3 linked regions of the Homo sapiens genome follow. The protein of the gene in region 2 interacts with the protein of the main gene of each other region in a pairwise test. Each region holds a gene or a part of one and is shown on either strand. Other genes may lie near its edges.

Region 1 (3,500 bases), on a different chromosome or scaffold from region 2:
TACTCAGGAGGCTGAGGCAGGAGAATCACTTGAACCCAGGAGGCAGAGGTTGCTGTGAGCCGATATCGTGCCACTGGACTCCAGCCTGGGGGACAGAGCGAGACTCTGTCTCAAAAAAAAAAGATTAGACATTTATTAACTATATGTCAAGCACTATGCTCAGTTCTTTTTTTCTCCTTTAGTTCTCATGGTAACTCAATAAAATAGGTGTTATTATTATTACTACACCCAATTTACAGAAAGGGTAATTAAGAAAATATGAATTCAGGCAGTTTGTCTATGCTCACCCAGCAAGTAAGCTTGGGATTAGAATTCAACTCAAATCTGACTCTAAATCATAATCTTAATCTTTATGCCATATTCCCTCCAAGCAGTGCAGAACATATATTGAGTCCTAAAAACCTAAAAGTACCAGAAGGACAGGGAGAAGGCAGAGAATCCCTTTAACTTTACACCACTGATGCAGAGGTATGTATTGAAAAGTATGATTAGGTTGCCATGGAGTAGTTGGAAGATGTAAGCTCTATCCAGCACAGTCCATGAAGACTGTGACTCATGCATCAGCAGCCAGGCACAGTTCTGGATAAAATGGGTTATACAAGAGGGGCTGGGACAGTAAGAAAGGGAACAAGGGAGATCCCCTTCTCTATCTCTGTAAAAAAGATAGGTTCTCAACATTTTTTGAATCTGAAAGAGGGACTTGGCCAGATGTATGAAATATCAATACATGGTTCCTATTCCACATTTGCCTAGGAATACACACCAACCAGCATCACCAATGGGAGGGAGAATGTATTCAAAGTTAGTTTGTGGCTTACCAGGTCGACCTACAATGCCTCCATAAGAGCAAGAAAAACTCTGAAATAAAGGCAAGGTAGAAAGTCATGATTTCACGTGGCTTCTTTGGGAAGTTCTCACCTTCCCAGATGCCTCCACATCCTGCAACACTTGGCAGTCTAAAACCACTTCCTCCTCCATCATTTCTTCACTCCATCGTTGGCACTGAGGGTACAGATTTGTCAATGAACTATTTTATGTTTTTCCCCTTGCAATCTGGCAATATTAGCTCTCTAATGAATTGCTTCAACTCGTATATTTTTTGGACAAATGTGACTTTTAGTTGAATTGTGCAACATCCATAAATAGCAAATCCTGGCTGATTAGAATCAACGAATGCCCTTAAAGTTGCCAGTAAAAATGGGCCCTTAGCTGCATGTTACTTAATAATTTGAAAGGCATCTGATTATTTTTGGGAAAAAACCTTTTACACACACATTCTGTCATCTGTTATGTATGTAGATATGTATTTGAATTTGAATGGATTATTGCAAGCCAGCCATGTTATGAATATAAGTGCTAGATATACTTGGATTTGAAACTAAACACATCTGGGTTTGAATCCTACCCTCTGCCACTTACAAGCTACGTGAACTTGGGTACATTTCTTAATCTCTCTGCCTCTCCAGTTTCTCATATGTAGAATAGATGTAATAAATCCCTTGCAAGCTTGACTTAAGGAATAAATGAGACCACACATACAATGTACTTGGCACAGTGTCTAGGCATATTATGGCTTAATAATTAGTAACTACTATTATCATCATGATGTTCTATTAATAGAGGATTAGAGTAGACACAATTTGTGGTCTCTACCAACACTTAATCTTCCCTTTCTGAAAACTGCCACAGCGATGGGCCTCCAAAGCCATATTTCTATTACATGACCCTGCTTTAGTGATAGGGCAAGAATAAGGATACCAAGCAAATGTGAGTTTAAGCAATTTTCCTATACTCACCCAGCCATTAGGTTTTTTACACAACTTAGCAGGTTCTCTTTCCTGAAAGTTTGGATTAGGAAATAGTCCCTATTATCCCTCTAAACTAAGAAATTGTGAGGCGGTCATGTTTGGCAACATGCATGCCAAGGCACTAAAAGTCAGTCTGCAGAATGTTGTTGATGTGCAGAGAGAAGCAGATTGACTTTGACTTGAACTCAAAACAATGCCTTGGTTCCGATAATTTTCCACTTCCATGAGAAACCATCTTCCTTCCTTCCTTCCTTTTTCTTTCTTTCCTTCTTTTTCTCTTTCTTTCCTTACTACTTTGGGTGGGTTTCCATAGTCTTCAACCAAAAGATCTTTGTTAACAGTGTCATCTCTGTGCATAAGGCCACCAGATCTTCTCTGCATGGCTTGGATGACCTAAGCATTTGAAAGGTACCTGATTTAAACAAACAAACAAACCCCAAAAACTTCATACACACACACACACATGCACACATGCGTGCACACACACTTTCCTTGTTATCCTTTTTCAACTCCTGAAGAGCATTAGGTATAAAATCAAAATAATCATATATGTAAGGAAATCATGTATGTATGGAAAAAAGGGAATAACAAAAATATAAAAGAAAAAGAGCCATCAACATTCCTGATCTTACAAAAGTAGGTCATCTGATCACTTTCCAGAAACCAAGAAAGAATGGAGAGACCCCAGCTCTTTACCTGGTGTTGCACTGGATACTGTTGGCCACTGCTGATCAGGCCCTCCTGGACCAGCCCGTAGAATGCCAGCCTCCTCTAGGTGCACAGAGCTGAATAAACACACAGACCCAGATAACGGTTAGATCATAAATTCTTTCCCATCTCTTCTTCCACCCTCAGAAATTGCTTACAACTATGAAGCCAGGGCTGCAGCTAACACATTCTGCTCATGCTTGAACTGAAGCAATTACTGCTGAGCAGTCACCCTGCATAAACTGCAGAAGCATTGCTGACTTACTTATTGCCTGCTATACTATTCCAGGAACACACATGTTCTATCTTTATGGCAATTCTGTTTTTTATTAACGCCATGTGGCGCTCACTAAATCTAACAGGAAGCCCATCAGAGGACTAAGCCATTTTAACATCTCGATACTGAAGCAGATGAGGAGGGCTTGTTCTCAAAAGTTCCAAGCCTCTCTTGCAGGTTCTCTTGTTCCTAGGTTCTCTACTCTAAAGAAGAAAACACACTAAAATATTTTCTGATAATTGGAGTATTGTTCCAATTTGGCTATCTAATTAATTCTTAACCTTATTTTCTATTTTACTCTTTCTATATCTTTTATGCATAGATGACCCACCCTATATTTCCTGAGACTAGAGAAACTTGATCACCACCACTCACAGATCCCCGCTCAGAAGAGATTAATTCAGCATAAAACATTGCTGGGAGTGAGATACAAACTGGGAGACCTTTAGAGGCAAGCAGAGATAGAACATAAACTGTTCAAGGGAAAAGAGAACATGGTGCAGTATTCATTTATGTATGTCTAATACTAACTCATATTAATCTCTCAAATATTTGTTGGATGAATGAATGAATGAATGAATGAATGATGGAAGGGAGGAAGGAAGAAAGGAAGGAAGAAATAAGTGGGATCCTAAGAGAAAATGTCCAAGAAAACCCTCATCAAAATTAGAGGAACATTTTGTTTTATTTTATTTATTTTTGAGACA
Region 2 (3,500 bases):
GACAGAGCCTTGCTCTGTCACTCAGGCTGGAATGCAGTGGCGCAATCTTGTCTCACTGCAGCCTCCACTTCCTGGGTTCGAGTGATTCTCGTGCCTCAGCCTCCTGAGTAGCTGGGACCACATGCACCCACCATCATGCCTGGCTAATTTTTTTGTATTTTTAGTAGAGACAGGGTTTTGCCACGTTGGCCAGGCTGGTCTCGAACTTCTGACCTCAAGTGATCTGCTCACCTCAGCCTCCTGAAGTGCTGGGATTACAGGCGTGAGCCACCACACCAGCCTTAATGTGGCTCTTAAGAGCCTCTTTTTACCTCATTCTTCCTTTAAATACAGACTCAAAAAGCCTACAAAACTGCACAGGTGTCCATCTGTAACAACTTTAAATGTACACATAATCCATTGTTAAGTAGCTAAATCTATTAAAAGTGTGATTTTTTTAAACTACTATGGAGCCATCAGAGAATATTCAGATTTTAATCAAAATCACAATATAATCAAATTTTCAGAATAAGACTTTATTATTTTATTTTTTCCCCCTCATCCTGCTAGCTGACTTGTTTTCATATGGCCCTTTCTGAAGTGATCAAGTATGCAGCTTAATGGCCTATGACCCTGAGCCTTAGCTTCACCCTTCATGACATCTCTGTGCCTTATTCTATACTAGAGGTGGGGTCAGCAATTGAATTAGGTTCAAGAACAGAACAGGATTATTTAACTTCAGACAGCAGTAATAAAAAAGCCAAAAGTTTAATAGTGATATTTCTATACTCAATCCTACCTCTTGTATATAGGATTAAATGGTCCTGGCAGCACAAATATTCCTCAAATCACAGCTTTATTTCACTCCCTATATTATAGGTAAACTTAAAAATTTAAGACAAAATTACTTTATTAAAAGTATCAGTAGCTCCATATAGCTCTTTCAGGACAGCTCGGAGCTTAGGAGTAACTAATTAGATGTTTGGCTTTTTCTTTAGTGGATTTAGTAGTCTGTTATGATCCTAAAAATGCATGTACAAACTTAAAGGTAAGTTAAATGTAGGGATTGAATGTTTCAATTTTAAATGTCTAATTAATTGGACATTTGTCTACTATAATTGGAGATTACAGTTTTAATTTTTGTTTTTTTCTTTTTTTGAGATGGAGTCTCTGTCACCCAGGCTGGAGCGCAGTGGTGCAATGTTGGCTCATTGCAACCTCCACCTCCCCAGTTCAAGCGATTCTCCTGCCTCAGCCTCCCGAGGAGCTGGGATTACAGGTGCCCACCACCATGCCCGGCTAATTTTTGTTTTTTTTTTTGTTTTTTCAAGTAGAGACAGTGTTTCACCTTATTGGCCAGGCTAGTCTTGAACTCCTGACCTCAAGTGATCTGTGTACCTCAGCCTCCCAAAGTAATGGGATTACAGGTGTGACCCACGGCACCTGGCCATAGTAGAAATCTGTAAGATCTTTTGATCTACCATGACCCTTTAATGAAATTTTATGCAAAATATTCTAATTTTATATAAGAAATCCTGATTTTTCTCTGTGCTGTAAAATACTTATCTGAGGAAGGAAGCCTAAATTTGAAAAATTAAAATGAAAAAAATATAACCATAGGAAGAAAACAGATTCCTAAACATAATACATTATTTCATGACTGACAGAAATGAATTATTATTCCAGTTAAGTTCATTTAGTTTATTCAGTCCTTTATATAAAATTATTGCTTTTTGTCCATACCACCACAGTGAAAACTCTTGCAAACTACTCAATTTCTCTGAGCCTGTCTTCAGTGGCCAAATAGAATTCTGCTTACTTTTCAAGGTTATTAGAGATTAAATAATATACGAAAAGTACATAGCATTGTGCCACTTACATGTTAAATTCTTATGTTTGACTTTAAGGATTTTTATATTCAGTTAAATTAAGGCGTCTTAGCCAGGGAATTTATAAAGTCCCTCCCAGCCAACTAAGTCCTTTCCAGCTATGTCTGTGAAAATTAACCAATGTGTATGTATAGCAGCAATAAAATATACTGAATATATAGAAAGATTAGCTCTTCTGTGGTGAGCTTTCTAGAGGGAAAAAGTTGTTTCACAAACAATCTACCACCACTCATGAATAACACAATATAATGATCTCATCCCATCAAAGATTTGGCAAAATACCATTCTCTGTTACCACAATATTATTACAACTATTCTAACTATTCAGTCTCTCTAAATACTGACTTTATTCAATGTTTTTTTTTGTGGTCCCTTTAGAGAGAACAAGGAAGATATAAGCATGTTTGGAAGGTCAGTAGGTAGACAGAGACATAGTTATGAAATGATTGTCTAATGAAAGTATCAGAAGTGATAGTAATCAGTGTATTACCTGTTGAGCTTGAGTGACCATCTCTTTATAGATAGTATCCAGGCTGACATTTGATAAAGCAGTTAACGCTGATACAATTGTTTCTGCTTGTGTTTTGTCAAATCCTGTAGGCAGCAAATAGGTATTTTATTTTTTTTAAAGTGTATATCCTTATCAAAATAGACAGCAAGAGTAACTCCTCAACATTTAAATTGTTATACTCTTTTAAATAATGGTTACAATTAAAAAATTGACAGATAATACTAAATTACTCTCTAAAAGAACTCTACAACTTTAGGCCGGGCATGGTGGCTCACGCCTGTAATCCCAGCACTTTGGGAGGCCGAGGTGGGCAGATCACAAGGTCAGGAGATTGAGACCATGCTGGCTAACACGGTGAAACCCCATCTGTACTAAATATACAAAAATAGCCAGGCGTGGTGGCGGGCGCCCGTAGTCCCAGCTACTCGGGAGGCTGAGGCAGGAGAATGGTGTGAACCTGGGAGGCAGAGCTTGCAGTAAGCCGAGATCGCGCCACTTTACTCCAGCCTGGGCAACAGAGCGAGACTCTGTCTCAAAAAAAACAAAAAAAAAACAAACAAAAAAACAAACTCTAAAATTTTAATTCTCATTCTGTATCTCCCCACATCTACATTAACACTGGATATGACTTTTTTTTTGAGTGTGTAATTGGCATAAAAAATTGTATTGCATTGTTATTTTAATGTTACTTAAATTTGCATTTCCTTGGTTTGTAGAGAGGTTAAGCATTACATATACTTTTTGTTATTTATATTTATTTTTCTGTGTTCTGCTTGTTTATAGCATTTGCCCACCTTTTTCTGTAAAACTGCTTGTTCTTCTTTTACATTTAGCTTTTCATCTATCTGAAATTTAGTTTTCAATAAGGGGATCTAATATATTTTTTCCCAGTGGCTAGTCACTTATTATGTCTCATTTATTAAATAGTCCTTCCTTTCCCTAATTTGTAATGCCTTCATCACATATTAAATTCATGTCTGTGTCTCTTAATACCATTTTGTTCTATTAGTCTATTCCTTTAATATCACATAATTTAAATTACTGTTTTGATATCAGGTAATTTTTTGTGCTTTTTTTTTATTTTTTAATCTCAAACATTTGTACTTCCACACGGACTTTAG
Region 3 (4,137 bases), on a different chromosome or scaffold from region 2:
GAACCCGTACTCTAGGGCCAAATCCATTCTTCTTGCCCTGGCTCACTTGTCCCCCCCACCGCCCCGCGCTGGAGCCACTGCCTAGTTCTTCAGCCCTAGATGGTGCTCGCCAGACCTCCTCTCAATGCTCATCACACACAGGGCTATTCCTTTCCTCCAATGAACCAAACGCCTCCCGCCCACCTCCAGGTCCCAGTCCTCTGTTCCCTTTGCCTGGTCCACCCTTGCCCTCCCTGGGTCGCAGACGAGGTCGGCCTCGTCATTCCCCGCAGACCGCCGCGCGTCCCTCTTGTGCGGTTCACCACAGTTGTATTTAAGTGATCGTGTGAGTCGTCGTTAAATGCCTGTCTCCCCGCGGATCATGGGCTCCTCGAGGACAGGGACTGGCCTGTCTGTCCACTGCTGTAACCCCGCGCCGGCATAGGGACCTAAGGCCCACTGGAGGGCGCTCATCAAGTAGCTGCTGGATGTTGACGAAGGAAGCGGCGGCGCAGCTCAGGGATCTCCGAGTCAGGACGGTCGGCCAGACCCACGGGGTAACGGGTCTAATCGTGTAGGAATAAAGCTGTATTCCAGTGCTTCCAAACGGTTCTCTCATTCCAACCCCTTTCCAAGCTCAATGAATATTCCAATCACCTCTGGTCCCTTCCAGTGACCCTGAACCGCTCAGAGAACGCCCCGTCGACACCGTTCGGGGCGGGCGCCACTACTGGCGCATGAGATGCGCTCAAGCAGAGGGTACTCCACCAGCGAGGATACACCGAGCCGACGGGGATCTCGGTCTCGGCGCCGGAAGCCTCTGAGAGCCGAATCTGGAACCGGATGTGGCTGCTTCCTGCCCCGCCCCCTGCCGAGGGGGCGGGAATCGAGGGCCCTTCGGAAAACCCGGCCGGGATTTCGGTCAGCTACATTCGTGGGTTGTGGTAGGGAGGGTAATCCCGTGGGGATGGAGTGACCGGCTCTCTCTCCGCCTGAAACGCTTCCCGCGGGAGTTTTAGCCGTGTTATTGTTGGGGAAGGGAATGTCAAATTCTGCTCCTGCCTTCCCCCAGGGGCTGGAGACTGGAATCTTTATTCCAGTTCATTGCGGGTCGACGTGGTCTCCAGAATCCCCGAGTGTAGAGGCGGAGGACAGTGGAGCTGGGGACTCGGGCGCCTGGGTCCTGGTCCCTGAGCGTCCAGCGCTCCCCTAGTCCGCGGCCCTGGCTCCTGTCCTCACTTCCTTCCCCTTTTGGCTCCTGCTCTCGGAGCGGGCGGACGCGGGGGGGAGCGGAAAGGGCGGGAGGGCCCAGGAGCCCGGCGGGGGGGTTCAAGGGGGTACGGAAAAGCCGGGGAGGGGACTCGGTCCGGGGCCGGAGACCGACGGCAACAGCGGCTCAGGACCCACGCTGCCCCCACCCCTCCCGAGCAGGTCAGAGCCTGAGCACCCTGCGCGTCCCCGTACTCGTGACCTCCTCCTTCCCCAACAGCACCAAGGGCCCCCCTATTCCACCCTTCTGTTGCCCCCTCCCCCAACCTTCCTGCAGAACTCCCTTCCGGTCTTCTTGACACCCACCCACGTCCCTTCCCTGCCCGGTTCCCCCGCGCCTGCCTGACTCTCCACCCCCACCCCACCCCGTCTCTCCCCAGGCGCCCCCATGGCCCGACCCCGCTGATTCCTTCACTCGGCCATGCTCCCGCGGCCCCTGCGGCTGCTTTTGGACACGAGCCCCCCCGGGGGAGTCGTACTGAGCAGCTTCCGAAGCCGGGACCCCGAAGAGGGTGGGGGCCCAGGTGGCCTGGTCGTGGGCGGGGGGCAGGAGGAAGAGGAGGAGGAAGAAGAAGAGGTGAGACGCGGGTGGTGGGAGGTAGGGGGCGTATGTATTTCTGAAGTCTCCACTTTTCTCTTGTCTCTGGGTCCCTACATCTCCTCCTCCTTGCCTCAGTTATTCTCGCGCCTCCCTGGGTGTCGGCCCGTTTCTCTGCTGCGGGGAGTCCTGGCGTCTCCGTGGTTCTCTGTCAGTGTGACTCAGGACCTGCCCGCAGGAACCTGCCCTGTTCCTGCCTGGAACTTCTGGCTGGCTGTCCTGTCCCTGCGGGTCTTTGGCCCTCCACCTCTGCCTGCCTGAGTGTGCCTACCTCTCTGAGCAGTCGTGTCTTGGTCCCTGTCTCCCTCCTTGTTTTTGTTTGGCGGGGAGGGGTTTGTTTCCACAGTAACCAGCTCCTCTGACTCTGGGATTGGGGAGGGAACCCTCAGATTTCGTGACCCCTCCTTCCCTCTCTCCCCCTTCCCCCCGCCCCCCCGCCCCGCCCCGGTCCTGGGTAGAGGCCGGGAAGCCACGGTTCTGGGACCTGGAGGAAAGATCCTAGGGTGGGTAGAGAGTGGTCATCTGTTTTCATTAGGGATTAATGGTGGTGGCCAGGAGCAGGATTTCGGGCCTCAGGAGGGGCCAGAATTTGGATTTGGGGCCCCGAGGCCCTAAACTCCTAGGTCCAGATCCTAGGTGAGGGCAGGTTGACTGGCAGGGCTGGTTTTTCGGGATCGGTCGGGGGAGGGGCTGGGGCCACGTGACTCTCTGAGTCTACCGCCCCCAACCCCCTATCATCCCACTTCCCCTTTTCCTTCCTGTACTGGGATTGGAGCTGCTACCTTCGGGGGTCCCTTAGGGCTGAGATAGTGGAGGCGCTACCCGAGGGACCAGGGTGAAAGGGGTCCTGAAAAAGACTAATTCTCTGGGCTGGTATAGTCCTTGGCCGGGAGGGGCGGGGCATGCGGCAGTGCCTGGACTGAGGTTTCAGCTACCCCTAGTCGCTGCCTCTGGCTTGCTGCCTCTCGCTTCCCTCTCCTGCCCTTTGTACCCTGCTTCTCTGTCGTGTGTGGGTTCAGCTCTGGGGAGAAGGGGCTTTGGGGGTCTCCAGGATCAGAATTCCTGTACTCCATCCACGCCTCCACTGCAGCCCCTTCGACTCCACCGGGGCCCTGAGGCGGCTGGGGTGGGGCTGTCTGGGCCCCAGTGGGGGAGACCTGGGGTCACCAGCTCCCCCAACCCTTCCTCGCACTCGCTGGTACTATGCCCTGCCACCACAGGTGAGGGGTACAGAGGGAGGAGCAGGGCCTGGGGTGAAGGCTGAGGGCAATGGGGGGTGGTGTGGAACTGTCTGACTTCCCCTTCCTTGCTCCTCCAGGCCCCTGTGTCCGTCTGGGATGAGGAGGAGGATGGTGCCGTGTTTACCGTCACAAGCCGCCAATATCGACCTCTTGATCCCTTGGTGAGATCATGACTTTAGCTTCTCACCTCTGACTCTTCATTCCCAGTTTTCCTTCCTCTGGCTGACTTTCTGGCCAGAGTGCTAGGTTGGAGTTCTGGAGTCCTGGACTCTGCTGTGTGACATAGGCCAAGACTCTTGCCCTCTCTGAATATCAGAAAAATGAGTCTGGAACATCTCCTGGGTCTGGGATTGTCCTCAGAAATCTAGGTGCAGAGTGGGAGAAAGGGTTAGCGATCATCTCTCTGTGTTCTCCAGGTCCCTATGCCTCCCCCACGTTCCTCCCGACGGCTCCGAGCTGGCACTCTGGAGGCCCTGGTCAGACACCTACTGGATACCCGGACATCAGGGACTGATGTGAGCTTCATGTCAGCCTTCCTGGCTACCCACCGGGCCTTCACCTCCACGCCTGCCTTGCTAGGGCTTATGGCTGACAGGTCAGAGTCATAAGGGACGCAGGGTAGTGGAGTATCTGCCCGGATTTCCTAAAGCCGCAACATCCCACCAAAATAGTCAAAGCCACTGAGGGTTTGGGAAAAATGGACAGATAGATCCTCTTCTCCCCCTCAGGCTGGAAGCCCTTGAATCTCATCCTACCGACGAACTAGAGAGGACAACAGAGTGAGTGACCCCTGGTTCTTAATCTCACAGTCCCCTCTGCCCAGGCTGCAGCTTTACCTCTCACCCTTGGCTGATTCCCTTCTCCCAGGGTAGCCATCTCTGTACTGTCAACCTGGCTGGCCTCTCACCCTGAGGATTTTGGCTCTGAGGCCAAGGGTCAGCTTGACCGGCTTGAGAGCTTCTTACTTCAGACAGGGTATGCAGCAGGGAAGGGTGTTGGGGGGGGCAGCGCTGACCTCATCCGCAATCTCCGGTCCCGGGTGGACCCCCA

Evidence for each region. Proteins that work in one complex are often made in the same cells at the same time.
Region 1: the proteins of CCDC90B (region 2) and PCDHA4 interact in a two-hybrid assay, tested with the Homo sapiens proteins (one large-scale study listed by BioGRID and IntAct).
Region 3: the proteins of CCDC90B (region 2) and RGL2 interact in a two-hybrid assay, tested with the Homo sapiens proteins (one large-scale study listed by BioGRID and IntAct).

Annotation. Positions count from the first base shown.
Region 1 is NC_000005.10:140,981,568-140,985,067, reverse strand, and holds part of PCDHA4 (protocadherin alpha-4 isoform 1 precursor), read right to left. Parts: intron 2,594-3,500; coding exon 2,505-2,593; intron 1-2,504. Other genes in the region: PCDHAC2 (protocadherin alpha-C2 isoform 1 precursor), read right to left, coding at 2,505-2,593; PCDHAC1 (protocadherin alpha-C1 isoform 1 precursor), read right to left, coding at 2,505-2,593; PCDHA13 (protocadherin alpha-13 isoform 1 precursor), read right to left, coding at 2,505-2,593; PCDHA12 (protocadherin alpha-12 isoform 1 precursor), read right to left, coding at 2,505-2,593; PCDHA11 (protocadherin alpha-11 isoform 1 precursor), read right to left, coding at 2,505-2,593; PCDHA10 (protocadherin alpha-10 isoform 1 precursor), read right to left, coding at 2,505-2,593; PCDHA9 (protocadherin alpha-9 isoform 1 precursor), read right to left, coding at 2,505-2,593; PCDHA8 (protocadherin alpha-8 isoform 1 precursor), read right to left, coding at 2,505-2,593; PCDHA7 (protocadherin alpha-7 isoform 1 precursor), read right to left, coding at 2,505-2,593; PCDHA6 (protocadherin alpha-6 isoform 1 precursor), read right to left, coding at 2,505-2,593; and 4 more. UniProt on the Homo sapiens protein: Calcium-dependent cell-adhesion protein involved in cells self-recognition and non-self discrimination. Thereby, it is involved in the establishment and maintenance of specific neuronal connections in the brain.
Region 2 is NC_000011.10:83,276,368-83,279,867, forward strand, and holds part of CCDC90B (coiled-coil domain-containing protein 90B, mitochondrial isoform 1 precursor), read right to left. Parts: intron 2,463-3,500; coding exon 2,359-2,462; intron 1-2,358.
Region 3 is NC_000006.12:33,296,143-33,300,279, reverse strand, and holds the start of RGL2 (ral guanine nucleotide dissociation stimulator-like 2), read left to right. Parts: upstream 1-1,337; 5' UTR 1,338-1,410; intron 1,411-1,628; 5' UTR 1,629-1,669; coding exon 1,670-1,825; intron 1,826-2,282; exon of another isoform or gene 2,283-2,387; coding exon of another isoform or gene 2,388-2,482; intron 2,483-2,936; coding exon of another isoform or gene 2,937-3,066; intron 3,067-3,164; coding exon 3,165-3,248; intron 3,249-3,503; coding exon 3,504-3,682; intron 3,683-3,815; coding exon 3,816-3,866; intron 3,867-3,954; coding exon 3,955-4,137. UniProt on the Homo sapiens protein: Probable guanine nucleotide exchange factor. Putative effector of Ras and/or Rap. Associates with the GTP-bound form of Rap 1A and H-Ras in vitro.